Regions from separate parts of the Homo sapiens genome. Here region 1 is linked to region 2. Evidence: fine-mapped QTL for protein levels in blood plasma. Region 2 holds a variant in brackets. A gene starts in the other region. All regions are shown on their reverse strands.

Evidence for each region. PIP is the chance, under the fine-mapping model, that this variant and not a neighbour inherited with it causes the effect. Protein levels are from antibody-based Olink assays in UK Biobank. Linkage for the fine-mapping came from a reference panel and not from the study's own genotypes, which makes the PIPs less certain.
Region 1: it holds the start of SSC5D, and the variant in region 2 is fine-mapped to the plasma level of the SSC5D protein (UK Biobank, PIP above 0.99).

What each region holds. Positions count from the first base shown.
Region 1 is chr19:55,487,097-55,489,989 of GRCh38, reverse strand. SSC5D (scavenger receptor cysteine rich family member with 5 domains) reads right to left here and starts at 1,554. Exons shown (of 14, transcript NM_001144950.2): 1 at 1,376-1,554; 2 at 958-984; 3 at 328-636; 4 at 1-108. The coding sequence starts at 1,400. NAT14 (N-acetyltransferase 14 (putative)) reads right to left here. Exons shown (of 3, transcript NM_020378.4): 3 at 2,424-2,893.
Region 2 is chr20:3,710,457-3,713,349 of GRCh38, reverse strand. SIGLEC1 (sialic acid binding Ig like lectin 1) reads left to right here and starts at 750. Exons shown (of 22, transcript NM_023068.4): 1 at 750-880. The variant A/G (reference allele first, on the strand shown) is at 1,652.

The DNA.
Region 1 (2,893 bases), not on the chromosome of region 2:
TCACCAGGGGCTCCTCCGTGCTGGGGCTCAGCTCCAGCAACAGCCCTGGCCAGGGAGCCCCATCCAGGGGAGATGTTGAGTCGTCCCTGGAGTTAGCCACACGCTGACCTGCGGCGGGGGGGCAGGGACAGAAGCTATGAGGAGAGGAGGGGAATCCAGGCCATTTGGGTCCCTGGAAGAGGGAGTTAGCCACCTGGCTTTGGAGGGGATGGGAGGTTGGGTGTCTCTGAACTGCTGAACACTCAGACTTGCTGGGGCTAAGGACTTGGGGTTCCTGGGTCATCTCCAAAGGAGCTCCCCCTGAAGGAGCAGCCAGGGTGTCCTCACCTGCGCAGACGACGCCCGCGTCCTCCTCGTGGGAGCAGATGTGGGCCTTCCAGCCCCGGTGGTGGCAGAGGCCCAGCTGCCCCTCGTTGCCCCGGCAAGCCAGCTCGCTGAGCCACACAGGCCCTGCCCCCTCCCCGAAGAAGGCGCCTCCCGGGGCGGCCAGTGCCCCTCCGCAGCCCAGCTGCCGGCAGGCCACGGCGGCATCGCGCAGGTCCCAGCCGTCATCACACACGGTGCCCCAGCGCCCGCCATGCCAGACCTCCAGGCGGCCAGCGCACCCATGGGGGCCATCGGCCAGGCGCAGGCGCTCTGAGGGTTGGAGGAATGGCTGTGACTGGGGAGGGGCATCCTGGGGGCCCCAAGGCCAGGGCAACTGTAGGGGCAGGTGGCTGTCCTGCAGGTACTGTCTGTAGGCCAGTGGCCCTGCTCACTGGCCCCTGGGCCCAGACTCCTGGGTGCTCAGAGAGATGCGGCCAGACACCTGGGGGATTCCCTTGCGGAGCTGGGGCCAAGGTCACAGTGGAATTCGGATGGGCCGGGGACCCAGTGGGGGTGAGGCCAGGCCTGGATGGGCAGAAGGGGGAGGCCTGGGGGGGGGGGCGGGCAGATGGGAGGAGTCTGGGCACTTACCAACAGCCTGGATCCCCACCAGGGCCGCTGGAAGGGAGGGCGGAGGGTGGGGCAGTGTGAGGGGCAGGCCGGGGGTGGCCCTTTCTCCAGCGCAGGCCCCTCATCTTGAATACCCCAACACACACACACACACACACACACACACACACACACACACACATGGGCTTGGCTAAAGGTCAGATGTCTGGGAGATCCCCCGCAGGGTCAGGGCTGGGGGGCGGGCAGGGGGCAGGTCCCTTGGGCTTCTGGGCTGGCAGAAGGCTGGGCAGATTGAGCAGGGATCCTCAGAAGGGATGTCAGGGTATGCAGGAGCACCAGCGACCAGTCCCGGAAGTTTGAGTCCCTAAACTGGACAAGCTAAGGGGTCAGAGGTGGGGGCCTAGGCCCCCCGAGTCCCCAAGGAGAATGGATCACTCACCAAGGAGGCAGGCCAAGACCCTCATGGTTGCAGCCAGGGCAGGGGATGGGGTGAAAGGGGAAGGAGAGCGGGGAGAGAAGAGGAGGAGGCAGCTGGGGAGAGAGGGAGGGAGGGAAGTGCCTGCTGGAGGCGCCCAGGCCCGAGGAGGAGCAGGCAGGGCTGGACGCTTTGCCAGGAGGAAGAAAGAGGCTGCAGGGAGGCGGCAGGGGACGGTGGGGGGGAGGGGGGGCGGGAGGGGGCTGGCCGTCTGCTGAGGCATGGGGGGGAGGGGGGTGGCGGGCGGGAGGGAGGGTGTCCAACTGCAGACACCCACACGGGAGATGGAGACGACGGCCAGGCAGGCTCCAGCCAGCAAAGTGCTGTGCCCAGAGATGCTTAGGGGGTGGCCGGCTGCAGGAAGGCACAGGACAGGGGTTGGGGGACGTGTGCGGGGGGGGCGCAGCATGAGCGGGAGGGGCGCCCACCTGCTGTCTCCCCTCTTGTCTGGTCAGGGAAATCCAGTGAGACCACTGCTAGGGTTGGGGGCTGGGCAGACCTGGGGTTCTTGGTGCAGCAGCAAGAAGATTTGCAGCCAGACACCAGGAGGGACTTCCTGGGTTAGGAAAAGAGACTGAAAGACCCGGCCCTCCAGTCCTCCCACTCACTGGTGGATCTGAGTGTGAAGCCCCCAGTCCCCAGCTGAGAGAGGAGAGGTTGAACTTCACTGTCCCAGAGGGAGCTGGGGTCGGGGGATAAGCAGCACAAGGGTCAAGGCTTGGGAAGGGGAGGGGCTCCACACACTCTTCCACACACTCACACACACACACACACACCCCACTGCCTGCACACCAGGCAGCTGTGAGGCGGAAAAAATTCGGTAATGGGGAGCGTGACTCAGAAGGGCTGGCAGGGCCTCGGGCTGCCCCTGAGCTCACAGCCTCCCCTTCTCCCAGTCCAGCACCGTCCCCCAACAATTAATGTTAACTGGGGAAAGGAGAAGCCAGACAGAAATGGGCGGGGGTGTCCGGAGACAGACTGGGAAAGCCATCAGAGAAGAGACAGGCACACAGCGGTTTCAGGCTTTATTAACAAACGGTGTAAAAAACCAGACGGATCTGGAGGAAGGGACAGGGCTGCCCGTCTCAGCTCTCAACCTTCCCAGAGAGGGGCCAGGCCTGGCAGCCCTGTGCGTCGCGCCTCCTAAGCAGTCAACCTTGTCCCCTCCAAGGACAGGCATCTGACCCAATCCAGGTCCCAGGGAGGCGGAGTCGCAAACCCTAACTCTGGGGTGTATTCTGCTCGGCCTCCTCTCCCCCTCCCCAGATAGCTCTCCCAGCCTGGGGCACGGACAGCACAGACTTTGCAGACATCACCCGGGGAGGTTTCTCAGTGCAGACAGGAGCTGAGGTAGGGGTTGGAGAGGCTGACCTCGAGAGGCCCCCGAGGGCCAGGAAGGAAAAGGAGTCATTCCACTCTGAGAAGCTCAAACACAACAGACTTCACACTGCTGACGGGTGGACAGAGGCCAGGCTCCTCCCC
Region 2 (2,893 bases):
ATACAAAAATTAGCCGGATGTGGTGGTGCATGCCTGTAATCCCAGCTACTCGAGAGGCTGAGGCAAGATGATCACTTGAACTCGGGAGGTGGAGGTTGCCGTGAGCTGAGATTGTGCCACCGCACTCCAGCCTGGACGACAGAGTGAGACTCCATCTCAAAAGCAAAAACAAAACAAAAAGAAAAAAACCAACAACAAGAAGCCAAAAACCAAAAAACGTACAGGACAGTGAGAGGGGAAAGAGAAAACCTGAGGAGTGTCCTGGACATTGGGGCCTTATGTCCCCCACAACACGGGACTGCCTCTTGGGGGTTCTTAAGAGTACTCAGTGGTACAGGGAGGCTCCTGAATGGCTTGGAGAATAACTGCCTTGGTCTGGGCATCGTGTAGTGCATCCCCACCCCAGGCTGGGCGCGCCTCCCTCTCAGGTGTCAGGGAGGAGAGCTGTGTGCAGGAAGCCCCCTTCCACCTCCCCCAGCCTCCCTAAGGGGCTCAGAGAGAGTGGGGTGTGGATTTGGCTGGTGAATGGGAGTCCCCCACTCCATTTCTCACTTTGCCTGGGGAGGCTCCAGCGTTGCAGCGGTCCCACTTCTGCTTGCTGGAGTCCCTAAGTCCCTGGCCTTGCCGAGGGCCTTCCCCTATGGAGGTCTTTCCCGTTTTGGCATTGCGCAAGGCCTGCAGCTGCCTCCCTGACCAGCCTCTGGGTTGGACAGTAGAGCTGAGGCTTTGGGAAAGAGGAAGCAGCCCCTGATACGGGATCCTTCTCTCTTGAGCCGGCAGAGCCCTGGGGAGCCAGCTGCACCAGGAGCTCTTGGCCGTCCTTCCTGTTCTCCTCTCCGCAGGTCCAGCACCGCCGCAGCCACTTCCTTCTGTGGAGCAGGTACCCCTGTCCCTGGTCCCTGGGCCCAGAGGGTGAGTGGAGCATTAGGAGCGGGGCTGGGCTGAAACTGGCTGAGCGGGATAGGGGCAGGGGTCGGGGGGGGGCTCCATCTGGGTGCGAGTGGTGGACCCCAAACCAACCCAAGTCCAAGACACTAATCAAAGATGGACTCAACTGAAACCCTTCCACCACCCCCAAATCCTTCCAACCTGCATCCCAATCCCAGTCCCGACCATCACCCTGCTCTGACCCTACCTCAGCCCCAGCCCCAGCCCCTATTCCAACCTTATCTCACCCTCACCTCACTTGCACCCCAACCCTAACCATTTACTCATCTCATCTAATCCCAACCATCCATCATCCCAACCCTAACCACAACTCCGACTCTATCATCCTCATCTCAACCCAGCCTCCACCGTATCTTAACCATCACCTGCACCCAACTCCAACCTTCACCCTTACCCCCACCCATCACTCAACCTCAATGTCCACCCCAATCCCAGCCTTAATTTGCTTCCAGAATTCCAACCTGATCATCACCCTGACCTCAGCCCCAGCCCAGCCCAACGATAATCTCTCCTTACTCTAACCCCAGCACAATTCCACTTCATCCATCACCACTTCGTCCGTCCACAGGAGGGCTTCTGGTGCTGTCCAGCACAGTTTGGAGAGTGAGCACTCCAGCCAGAAGCATTTAGAGCCAGATTAAGGAATGAAGTGTGAAATTTCTACTGCCCATGTCAAAGCCAATAAGCATTAGTTATGGATTCT[A/G]TGGCTCTGAGAATTAAACATTTGGCCTGTGATTGGGGATTTCCACTATTTTGACCATAATCTGCTCCAGGAATTGCCCATCCGTACCCTGACTCCCTATCTGTGGGCCAGTAACCTCCAGCTGGCCATGTCACCCTGTGTTCTTCCTTCTCTAGCCCAATGGGGAAGTTGGGGAGAAGCCTTGGTGTCAGGAAACAGAAACTGAATCCTACACCCGGGCCTAGCTGTCCATAGGGAAACTGCCTCTGCCCTTTCTTCCCCAGCTAAACTTGGCCTCTGGAATCAGAGGTCAGGGACTTGGGGCCCCAGCCAACCCTCCAAGACCTCCTGAGGCACTTGGTCTCAAACAGGCAGCAAACGTGAGTGCCCACTGTGTACCAGGCCAGCTCAAGCCACCCTGATGCAACACATACCAATAGTAGGAGTGGGGATTTAAAATCCTGTCTTCAGAGCACCCAAGACTTGGAGACCCAAGTATGAACCTCAGGAACCTCCTGTCTGGGGAACAATGATTTCCAAAAGAGTCACCCAAGGGAGGGATGGTTCAGGGCTGCAGAGCTGCCTGCTCCCTGTTGCTGGCACACCGCCCCCTTTCCCGGGACCCGCAATTCCCCCTCGACCACCAGGGGGCGCTGCGTGCTCACTAGGCCACAGCTGCAACCCAAGTTGCGGGGGGCGGGGGGCGGGGCACTGTCCCCTCAACTCCAGGCTTTCAAACAGGGACAGAGATCTCCTTTCTGAGCGGTCCCTGCTCTTTCTGTTTCCAGAACAGTTATCTGGGCTGAAGCTGGCCTTTGTGGTGACAGGCTGAGCCAATAGGCTGGATTCCGGTGGGGCTGACCCCTTTGGGGTTAGGGCCGGGCTAAGCATAGGTGGCCTCTACATTATGTGATGGGAGTGGTCCTGGAAAGGGTCCTCCCCCGCGCCCTGTTCCAGGGTCGCTGTGTCCAGAACCCCACCATTCTTCCATCAGGTTCACGATTGCCCTTTTCAGGACCCCAAATGGGAGGAACAGGGGAGCTGGGACAAGATAGCTGCCCTGGCCATAGCAGAGCTGACCCTGACATCCCCTGTGGCCAGGGACACATCTGACCCCCAGTGTGCCCAGCAGGCTGCTTTTCTTCACGGTGAGGTGTCCAGGTCCCAGGGCCCCAGCTATATCATTCTCCAGTGGCCAAGAACCTGGTGTGGAGGCTGGGGGTGCATCTTCCCAGAAGAGGAGGAGGCCTAGGGCTTCCTAGA